Homo sapiens: one gene and its partner. The protein of the gene in region 2 interacts with the protein of the main gene of each other region in a biochemical or structural test. Each region holds a gene or a part of one and is shown on either strand. Other genes may lie near its edges.

Region 1 (7,032 bases), on a different chromosome or scaffold from region 2:
TAGGAATTGTGGGGATCTGAGATTAGGAAAATATCCCTTCTCATTGAATAAACCTTGACATTTGTGGAGCATTCAGAACTCTATGCCTTCTTTTGATTTCCCAAATTCATGTTTGCATTTGACATAGGAGCTCTAAGGCATGTGGACAAGTGTCGTATTGTATTTGACAGATGAGGAAACTAAGGCCAAAGGTTTGGCCAAAGTCACCTGGTGGGTTAGCAGGGGACCCCTCCATGCAGCTTTCCGTTGTGCCATACCTACTAGTCCCCACTAAGGTCACATGAGCCTTACTTGTTAGCAGGCCACCAGGTCACCCTCCAATGCCACCTGCCCTCTGGGGTACTTTATTCCATAAGGTGCCCACATCAGGATCTTCCCTCAAGCTGGACAGGACAACTTCAGGCACACCACAGTGTTCCCAGAGCAGACCCTCAATAAGAATCCCTGCCCTTTGGTACAGTGGCTCACGCCTGTAATTCCAGCACTTTGGGAGGCCAGGGAGGATAGTTCGCTTGAGGCCAGGAGTTCGAGACCAGCCTGGCCAACACCGTGACATCCCGTGTCTACTAAAAATATAAAAAATTGGCCAGGCGTGGTGTTGCATGCCTGTGGTCCCAGCTACTTGGGAGGCTGAGGCACGAGAATTGCTTGAACTCAGGAGGTAGAGGTTGCAGTGAGCCGAAATGGTGCCACTGCATTCTAGCCTAGGTAACAGACTGAGACCCTGTCTCAAAAAAAAAAAAAAAAAAAAAAAGACAGAAAAAAAGAAGAAAGAATCCCTGCCCCTGCCCTTTGGGAAGGGGAGGGCTATTTGTGTGCTCTCAGGACCATGTCTCAAACATCAGCACTGGCAGTGAGGAGCTTTCACCCTTCTACAGAGCAGTAAGGGACTGGAAAGAACAGACACAGCCCAGGCCCTCATCCCTCCCATTCCTGTATCCATGCACAAGTACCACATGGGTTTTTAGGAGTTTGGACCACAATCAAGGATAAGAAGAAAGCATCCCTGACCTTAAAGAGCTAGGGAGACATAGGAGCAAATCCTTTCAATATGGTGTGATAAATGACAGGGTAACAGTGTGATCACAGAGGAGGGAGAAAACAGGGAAAATGAAGGGACAGTCATGTTTCGGGGGCAACTGGGAAAGAAGAATAGGAGAAGCTCCTGAAATGGGCCTCAGAGGATGCACAGAAATTTGCAAAGTGGGAACAGAGAGCCCAGGAGGGATTGCAGTGTTGGGCAGAGTCTCAGGTCTGGAGTGAGAAAGCTTGAGTTCCAGTCCCAGCTCTGCCACTCACTAGTTGTGTGATCCTGGGCAGGTCACTTTACCTCTGTGAATCTTAGTTTCTGTACTTGTAAAACAGGAGTTGTCCTGACACCACCTTTAAAGGTGGTTGGGGACAGTCAGGCTAGACAATACTTTTGAAAGTGGTTTTTAAACTGTAAACAAAAAGAATGTCAGTTCTTAGTTGCTGGGGATATCTATATTTACTACTCCTCTGGGGAAGGGATGAAGATATCCCGAGGGAAGATAGACCCATGTGCTGGGGTCAAACTCATGGCCTCTGTCCTGGGAGGGCCTGGCTGGGAACAGGGAGATTCCTTGTTTCCCTAAGCCTGGAACCCATTTCTAGGACACAGAGGGCCCATTGGCACCCGGCTTACCTGCAGCTTTGATGGAGGACTTACGAGCTGTGTGCCGTCTGAGATCCACAGCCTGCTGTACCTGGAAGGCCCTCAGGTCCTCTTCGTCCAGGGCAATGTCCCCAAGAAAGGCAGCTAAAGAGAAAAGAAGAAGCCAGGGCTGAGTTAATCCTCCTACCCAGCCCTAGGTGCACCGTGCTTCTAGCCCCAACCCTGTGGGCACCAGCCCCCAACCTCCACAGCGACTGTGATCCTCAAATGCCATCTGAACGAGAAGGAGAAGGGCAGTTAGGGATCAGCTTATAGAATTTCTTGGGAAGCTCATGCTTACTTTTCAGTTAAAATCCCAGTAAAGCTGATGCTCAGCCCCTACCAGTCTGTTAGCTCATCATTCTTTGGGGAGTGTGGGGCAGATAGGGTCTCACCACTGTGCCCAGCTAATTATTTAAAATTAGCAGGGTCTTGCTATGTTGCCCAGGCTGGTCTCAAAATCCTGGCTTCAAGTGATCCTCCAGCCTCCTCAGCCTCTCCAGTGGCTGGGAATACAGGTGTGAGCCACAGAGCCATCATTCTTCAGCAAATACTTAGTTAACATACTACTGTGGTCCAGACAATACCCTAGTTATTAGCAAGACAGAAGAGGCCCCTGCTTCGGTGGAGCTAACCTTCCATAATATGCAAGTAAATAAATACTGACCTAGGGTCTTCCAGATAGCAATGGGAGCTATGAAGAAAATAAAACAGGGTGTGCTGAGCATGTGGTGGTCACTCAGCAAATGCTGTTTCAATTTAACTAAGGGGGTGTCTATGAGATAAAATAAGCCAGGTGCAGTGGCTCACACCTGTAATCCCAACACTTTGGGAGGTCGAGGTGGGTGGATCACTTAAGCTCAGGAGTTCAAGATCAGCCTGGGCAACATGGTGAAACCCCGTCTCTATAAAAAATACAAAAATTAGCCAGACATGGTGATGCATGCCTGTAGTTCCAGCTACTCACTCAGGAGGCTGAGGCAGGTGGATCAATTGAACCCAGGAGGTCAAGGCTGCAGTGAGCTGAGATGATGCCACTGCAATCCAGCCTGGGCAACAGAGTGAGACCCTGTCTCAAAAAAAAAAAAAAAAAAAAAAAGAGGAAATAAAATTGTACCATTTTTCATTAGAACAGATAAGCATCTTTGGGAAACGAAGATACCTTCTGGGAGCTTCCCAGCTAGGAGGAAAAAGTTTAACAGTTCTCAAGTAATTCCTATTCCAAGTCTTAGGCTGCCCAAGCAGAAAGGCCAGAGGGGAAGAGAGCCTCCCTAAAGGGCCATTCCGATTCCAGTATCTGGAGCTGAGGAGGGATGTTTCCAGAGACCCGGCTGAACTGTCTGTCTTCCTTTTGAGAAGTCTGGAGAAAAGGAAGCAGAGGCCATAGAACTGGCCGCTTTGTAAGGCGCTCAGATGGGAGCTGCATGCTGAGCTGGGCTGGGCTGGGGGAAGTGGGAGGCTGGGCTACAGGTGGGACCCACAGCAGCTTCCCTGCAGCTCCACCCACAGCAACATCTGCTTCTCATCCAGGCAGAGTGCTATACAGGCCTGGCGGTCGCGTTACACAAATTGTTTTAACCTTGAAGACTTCTACACAGGTTTCTCCTCCCCAGTTGGCCTCACTGGTGAACACACACACACACTGACTTCATCACATACAGAATCAGACACCCAAGGTTAGTGTTCCTACAGACATATGGTGGCGTCCACACCCTTGCCATCCAGTGCAGAGCCATCAAAGCCAGGGACACACATCCTTGCGCATGAAAGCAGCAGCCAGCACTGCACTTTCAGGCGGGAGGCACTCCGGGATGTTCGAATGAATGAATTGCCACGCTGATATTCTTCTGGCTTGCAAATACATGCCCAGAGACACACCCTCACCTAGACAGGATCAACAGAATGTGGGAGTGACTGTGGCAGTCATCGAGGCCAAACTTCCATTTTATAGATGAGGAAACTGAGGTCCCAAAAGCAACAACTTAACTGAACCTACACTGCTAGTCACTGGAAAACTGGACGTATAACTCAGGCCTCCCCATTCCCAGTGCAGCAACCACTGCACTCTCTAGAACCCCTACTGTAAATACATATATACAAAAATAGATACTCAGACGGACACATCCACAACAAAATACACACACAGTCACACACGGTTTTTAAAAAACACACATGCACAAGCTCCAACATACACAAACCAGCTGCAAGCTCTGGACCCATTAAGCAAATAATAGTCGTGATAATGACACCTTATGTAAATGTTGAAATTTTTGTGGTGCTTTCCAATTGGCAAAGTGCTTTCCCATTAATTAATTTAATCCTGGCCTGCCCACAACATGCCCAGTAAGCCACACTCCACACCATGCTCTTGCAGAGCATTAGAAACTCTCAGAGAGAGATAACCTAAGTGGCTAGGTTTAGGTTCCAGCCCACCTCCCTGACTTTAGACATCAGAACACTTGAGCCTATGAAGGGCGATAACTCACTCAAGGTCACCAGCCAGTAAGTGACCCCAAATCTCTTCCAACCCATGAGAAAGCTACTCTTACTTGAATCGCCATCCTCGGCAGGTGGCCTTGGCTCAGCAACTGATGGGACGGCAACAGAAGATGCTTCCCAGGTGACATGCAAGAGTGGCCTTAACAAGGACATGGGATGGGAGGTACACTCCAAGGAAGAAGCAGTGGGTTCATACTCACCAAAGTTCACGTAGATGTGCATCTGCCACACGAATGCCTCCACACTTAGGCTTGTGTTATACCTTTCTTTCTTTTTTTTTTTGAAATGGAGTCTCACTCTGTCACCCAGGCTGGAGTGCAGTGGTGCAATCTCAGCTCACTGCAACCTCTGCCTCCTGGGTTCAAGCAATTCTCCTGTCTCAGCCTCGCCCAGCTAATTTTTGTATTTTTTTTTTAGTAGAGACGAGGTTTCACCTTGTTGATCAGGCTGTTCTTGAACTCCTGACCACAGGTGATCCTCCTGCCTTGGCCTCCCAAAGTGCTGGGATTACAGGCATAAGCTACTGTGCCCGTACACACATATTATACCTTTCACAGGCATTGTACCTGCAGGCTCCCACACCCAAACCCACAGGCATCACCGCATACAGGTGTGGCTGGACATTTAGACTCACCTTTGGACATAGAGCAAAGGGCAAGGTCTTTGGAGTCAGACAGACCTGTCTTGGAATCCAGGTTGGCTACTATTAGCTGACAAGTCATGTAAACTCTTCTAAGCCTCAGTGTTCTCCTACATAACAGAATCTGTCTCCTAGGATTACTGCATGAAATAAGACATATACACGAACCCCCAGCACAGAGCATGCAACACGGTACGCACCCACCAGCCACTTTAATATTATCCCAACACAACCCGTAAGCTCAAAGTCAGCTCTAGACCTCCTCAGGGAACGCTGGCTCACCCACACTCTCTGCCCCCACTCCTCCTTGAGTGAAACCCTGGTGCAGAGGCCACAGAACTGTGCTGGCCTGCGGGTCCAGGGCCAGTGTAGAACCAGGGCAGAGCAAGTGCAAGGCAGGGCAGGGCATGGCCCTGGCTGCTGAGCTCCTGGAGTGAGGATGTCATGGCTGAAGAATGCGTGGGAACCAAGTGGGGGTGGGGAGAGAGGAGATGGGCAGGAGAGCCTTAGGGGCAGGAGCTGGGCCTTGGGGCTCTGTGCTTTTGGGCTGCCCTCTGGGGAAGCGAGGGAATCTGGATGCTAAGGAGTCTAGGAGGTCTCTCCTTACTCAGAGGAAGCCCTGGGGTCACGGTCAGGGTAGTAGTTATTTTCAACACAAGATAAAAATTTTTTGTGTTGTTTTCCAGCTGTAAACCTGCCAGGAGCACTGTGGCTGAGCCCATCTGTGTGCTTGTGCCTGGGAAGAATCTCACTCTTTCAGGTCAACCTCTGGACTCCACCGTCTCCTCCCCCAGGGCATGGCAAGGCCTCCCCTTCTGGGGAAGTGGGGAGAGGAGGCTGGCTGGTGTAATGAGCCCCAAGGCTATATGTGCAGGACTGATGCATGTCCCACTGCACAAACGCAAGCTTCTAGCTGGGGGATGACACACTCAAACCCCTGCAAACATGTGGATGGACTTCATCACATGTGAACACTTCTGCAGAGGTGCATGTTTGCCTCCATGCCTGCATGTACTCAGGAAGACCGATCACAGGTGAACATGCTTGCCTACAAGGCAGCGACACACCCACGCATATGCACAAACACACACTCAACCACTTCCCCGTGCAGGATCTTGTGTTTTCAAACACACACATAACTGCAGGCATGCACCATGTTTCACAGGCCACACTCCCCAAAGGACAAGGGCGCACTTAGAAATGGACAGGGATGCACTTGTGTGAGACAAAGAGAGCGAGGGAGGGAGAGAGAGAGATTAGCTGACTCCCTTGGATCTCCTTAGGAGGTTCTTAGTGGACTGAGGAGTAGCGCTTCTACTCCCCCGACCGCAATATCTTCTCCCCAGATCTCTGGAGAAACTAGATTTTTTTTTTTTTTTTTTTCACAGAGTCTTGCTTTGTCACCCAGACTAGAGTGCAGCGGCACAATCATAGCTCACTACAGCCTCCAGCTCCTGGACTCAGCCTTGAACTCTCGAGCTCCAACTCCTCCCAGCTAAGCCTCCCAAGTAGCTGGGACTACGGGTGCATGACACCATGCCCAGCTAATTTTTAAATTTTTTTGTAGAGATGGGCATCTTGCTGTGTTGCCCAGGCTAGTCTTAAACTCCTGGCTTCAAGTGATCCTCCCACTTTAGCCTCCCAAAGTGGATTACAGGCATGAGCCACTGCCCCCTGCCTAGACTTCTTAAGAATCCCTTCTTCCTGGGGAACCCCACTGCCCCGCCCTGCCCCATGTAGGGCCCAGGGAGAGTACAAATTTTTTCCTCACCCCTTGCGGCACTGAAATAAGAAGGTGACTCAGGGGCAGGGGCCTGGGTGGGTGGGGTGACTCAGCTGTCTAGAGGGGGAATGTGGTCTGGTGAGAGGAGAGATTACTTCTCGACCTCAGAGGGTGTACCCTAATCCTCTATGGCTCTCTGATGTCCAAACCTTGGCCAGGCGTCCCCCTGGGTGGGATGGGGATGTGGGCTGGTAAGTGCTGCCCCTCCCGCTCCTGCAGACTCTGGGCTGTCAGATGAGGTTGAGGTGGTAGCAGGGGCCTCACTGGCACAGGGTCACTACCCAGCTCTGGGTGTGACATGCTTCTAGCCCCACCCCTGTGGGGTCAGGCCCCTGGGCTTCTCTGATTTTGGGATCAACTGTGTCCCAATTCCTGCCTCCAAGGTCTCTCCGGGGGGGTGTTGGCTAGTCACCTGGGGCAGCCAAACAGTGCTGG
Region 2 (4,866 bases):
GAAATTTTTTATATTTTTCACATATCTTTGTCAGACCAAGTGGCAATATGGGTGCTTTATAAAGTAGTCATCAATATAAACTTTTACAGAATTAGATGGAGTCATTTTATGCTGCAATTCCATGTAAAAATGGCCTTAGCTATAGAAGTTGTATGTGTTTTCATGATTTTCTAGTTAAACATGCTGGTATAGTGCCTGAGGCTCAATGAGACCTCCTGCAGTTTCAGGAATATGCTTTCTTTATGCTATAAGACTGTTTGTTTATAACTGTCAAACCACCAGCAAGTTATCAACTCACATTCAAAACAGGCACCAAGCCACACTTTTGTTAATGTGAATTCTTGAAGAAAACAGAAACTAGACTGTTTTTGTAAGTTTTAAACTCATAAGCCAAAACACAGGGATTTAAAAAAAAAAAAAAAAAAACAATGATTTCTTTCTCAAGAGGTTTTTTTCTTTCCTTGGTGGTGTTCAAGCAAGAACTGTTTTGGAAATGCTGACAGGATCATAGCAAAGGCATCCAGAGGGAAACATATAATATGTTTATTTATCTTAGAAACCACAGAACATTGCAAAAGGCCAAATTGGCCCTGTAAAATGTGTTGCTAACATGTACAGTATGATTGCTTAGTTTGGACAAAGTCAAGTCATTTCTGTGCTGATAAAGAAGGATCACAATCTATATTCCGGCATCTCTAGAATTTATGTCTACAGCTCAACCCTTTCCCTTGAGCTCCAAAATTCTAGATCTAAATCCTCCTTGACACCTCCATATGGAAGTTGAATATGCATCTCAAAAAGAACAGATTCAAAACCAGATATTTGATTCTCAGTTCTTCCAGCTCAACCTCCCAGTCATTACCATCTCAGTAAATGGTGACTTCATCCTTCCAGTGGCCCAGGCCAAAATTCCTGAAGTCATCTCTGTTTCTTTTCTTTCTCTCTCATGCCCCATCTGATCATTCAGCCATCCCTGGCCTCTCTACCATCAAAACAAACCCCATATTTTGATCCCTTCTCAACAATTTTTCTACTATTATCCAGGTCAAAGTCTTCATCATCTCTCACCTGATTATTGCACTAGCATCCGAAATATTCTCTCTTGGCCTATTCCTGTTACCTTACAGTCTATACACGCAAAGGGATCCTCTCAAAGACAGTTGAATCAAGTCACTCCTCTACCGAGACCCCTCTAATAGCTCTCTGTCTTACTCAGAGTAAAAGCTCATCTTTACAATGGCCTAAAAAGTCCTACAGGATGCGATTGTCATTACCTTTCTGACCTTGTATCATATATTATCTCTTCTTGCTCACTTTACTCTGCTCACGTTTGTCCTCTCTGCTCTTGTTGGAACGTGCCATGTATTTTCCAAATTCAGGGCCTCTTTTCTTGGCTTGCTCCCTTCAGTTCTTCATCTCCCTGCTCAAATGTCACTCCTGATAAGTCCTTTTTCCGACCATCCTATATAAAATAGCAAGTCTCACCCCCTTCACATCCCTTATTCCCCAGTTCTGCTTGACATTCCTCCACTTTAATTGTCATGTCCTGGAATGTCTCCTCCTGCTGCAACATCTGCTTCAGAGGGCAAGGCATTATGCACTGCTGTGTCTCTGCCACTAGAACACTGTCAAGCACACAGTAGGTTATTAATAAATATTGGCTGAAAAAATGAAGTAATATGTGCTAGTAGATATATCTGATCAAGACAAAAAAGTTGGATTATTTTGACATTTTTGAGTGTATTTTAAAATTGATTTGTGTTTCTATGCTTGTTCCTGATGGCCTGGAAGCATTCATTCAGCCCTCACAGTCACTGCAGAATGTGTGGCCTGGGAAGAGTCTCCTGATCTCCAATGCCTAAGTGATTGATGGCAGTCATAATACTCAGGAGGCAACTCACCCAGTCCTTTTCTGGTTATCTTATACTGGGGTAGGGTGTGCATATGCCCTTTCTTTTGGCTCAAAATTGTTCAACTTCTTTGAAGGTTGTTTTAGTTTCCTGAATGCGTATGCTTGTATATGGTTTTAATAAGTTTAGTGTTCTCCCTTTCTTGATTTTACTTTGTTTTCCACTATTATACTTTGTGGTGTGAAATTGACAGTCTGTCACAGACCTGTGATTTGAAATAATTGTGACAGATGGTGTGCTTGAATACATAAACAGATCCACTAGAAGGAATGTTTTAGCAATAAGTGTGGAAACTTAAAATTGAGCAGCAAAATCAAGAGTGAAATAACTGCAATGTCGACTCAGCAACCTCGAATGTCTGTGCTGCAGGAGAGTCTGAAGGACAGTGAAGTCTTGTGAAGAGTTGTTGTGTGTGTGAAGGGGCAGTCTTGGACTGGGACTGCCTGGAACATTGGATGAATGAGAAATGACTGTATAAAACATTTTTAGTTTACTTGAGGGATTAGGCAATTCTTCCTTCGTATAAAGATAAGATTATGATATCCTGCAGCTGCCTCTGCAATAAAATTGTGGAATAAACCAGTTTCTTGGAAAAGCATTATGGAGAACGGTAAAGGAATATAAAAAAGATAATAGTGATGATTCAGACAAATGAATGAGCAGAAGAAGAGGAGATCCAAGTTATGCCTAATTTATGTCATGAGAATTACATAGTAACATTTATTGCCAGATCAAAGTCTTTGAAGAAAAATGCTTTAAAAGATCATGAATACTGTGTTCTGGAAAATCTGTGTCACTTGAATAAACTAAGATGGCTGTACTGAAGACAGAAAGTGGTATGGCCTAGGCTAGCATAAATGTACAACAGAGGCCTTTCCAACCAGGAGGGGTCAGAGACAAATTTTTAAGTTTCCAACCTTTTATGTGAAGCACCCATAATCGAACAACAGTTTTAATGAAAACAAAAAAATTAAACATTTAATAAGGAAAAAAGAAAGTGGATATTAATGATTAAGTTGTGTCTCCTCCCAGAAGATATGTTCAATATCAAACCCCCAATACCTGTGAGTCTGACTTCATTTGGAAATAGAGTCTTTGCAGATATAATCAAGTTAAGATGGGTTCATACTAAATTAGGGTGAGCCTTAATCCAATATAACTCATGTTCATAGAAGAAGAAGAGAAAAGACACAAACACATGAGAGAGAAGGCCATGTGAGGGTGAAGATGGAGGCATAAATTAGAGTCACGCTGCCATAAGGCAAAGAACACCTAGATTTAACCAGAAACCTAGGAGGAGCAAGGAAAGGTCCTCTCCTAAAGGCTTTGGAAGGAATCTGACCCTGCTGACACCTTGATTTTGAATTTTTAGCCTCCAGAATTGTGAGAAAGTAAGTTTCTGTTGTTTTAAGCCACCCAGTTTTTGGTACTTTATTATAGCAGCTGTGAGTTCCTTACAGAGGCCAATAAGCAGGAGACAAAAGACAGACATGGTACAATAGGAAACGAGAGGACTCTCTGCTGACTTATTTCTCCAAGTGTGGACCAAGAAGCAGCAGCATTCCTGGAAGTTTGTTTGAAATGCAGAATCTCAGACCTCGATCCAGAACTGACACATAAGAATTTCCCTTGAAATGATTATAGCTCGAACTGTGTGCCTGTAATAACAATGGCAGTAGCAACACCATAGTTGAGCCCTTTCCATTTACTCTACTTTGATCTATAAGTTATATTCTACACTCGCTAACTGAATTCACACACCAATCCATAAGACATGTACAATTAATATTCCCATTTTATGGACAAGGAAATGAGTCACAGAAAGGTTAACTAGCTTCCCTTAGTCATGCAAATAGTAAGTGTCGAAGCCAAAGAAATCAGCTATATTTATCTTTATTTCAAAGGAAATAAAGATACATATATATGTATATATGCAAAAAGATATATATATAAATATATATATATAAAGATATATATGTGTGTATATATATAAAGATATATATGTGTGTGTATATATATAAATATGGGGGGAAGTTGTGTTGACAAGAGTGCTGGAGAATCAGGCCTGTTTCTCATTTTGATACTGAACAAAATTAGAAGTAGCTTGACTACTGGAAAAGTGTGTTGGATCTGCCTTGCAGATAAGTGTCCAAAATGGTCTTCCCCTCTTTAGATTTCTACTTATTTCTCACCACACTTGTCAGTTAAGCAGCAGGATATCTGCAGGCTTTTCCCCATAAGAGAAAGGCTGCAGCATAAAGGGTATATCATTCAAGGCTATAACATGGAGTGTGCATCATTGAAGGCTACAACATGAAGGGTGCGTCACTCAAGGCTACACCATAAAGGGTGAATCATTCAAGGTTACAATAAGAAGGGTGAATCGTTAAAGGCTATAGCATGAAGGGTGCATTATTCATGGTTACAACAGAGAGAAGGATGCATCATTCAAGGTCCAGCTCTGAACAACAACAAAAAAAGTCCATTTATGGACATGCACCTTGAATTCCTGAATGTCTTCCAATAGAAACCACCTATTCAACTGTAGTCATGAGAGGAGGATCTCTTGGGAGATGAAAAAGAGAAGAAAAAGAGAGGTTTCTTCCCTCTTATTAAAAATACTGGAAAATTCAGATTTTATGGTCCTGCAAGAATGTGGAAAGATGGAAAAGAGTAACTTTCCCTAATGTTAATATTACCTCGGGATATGTCAAATGTAAATGAAAATTATTGCTTCTGTTTCAGAAGAAGAAAAATAGTTTGATTAAGCCTCCTTTATGCCAACCTGTCAGAGGTGTGTCCCAGCATACGTCTTGGATTTTGAACTTAGTCCCTGTCTTGAATAGTGCCTCCCCACCAAATCTTGCTCTTGAACTATTATGCATCTATGGAAACCCACCTCAACTGTTATCTCCTCAAGTTTTTCATGTTCCACTGCACTCATTCTGCTACTATT

Evidence for each region.
Region 1: of the proteins of DCN (region 2) and BMP1, one has a biochemical effect on the other in vitro, tested with the Homo sapiens proteins (one study listed by IntAct).

Annotation. Positions count from the first base shown.
Region 1 is NC_000008.11:22,168,350-22,175,381, reverse strand, and holds part of BMP1 (bone morphogenetic protein 1 isoform 3 precursor), read right to left. Parts: intron 1,781-7,032; coding exon 1,667-1,780; intron 1-1,666. UniProt on the Homo sapiens protein: Metalloprotease that plays key roles in regulating the formation of the extracellular matrix (ECM) via processing of various precursor proteins into mature functional enzymes or structural proteins.
Region 2 is NC_000012.12:91,139,965-91,144,830, forward strand, and holds the end of DCN (decorin isoform a preproprotein), read right to left. Parts: 3' UTR 520-4,866; downstream 1-519. UniProt on the Homo sapiens protein: May affect the rate of fibrils formation.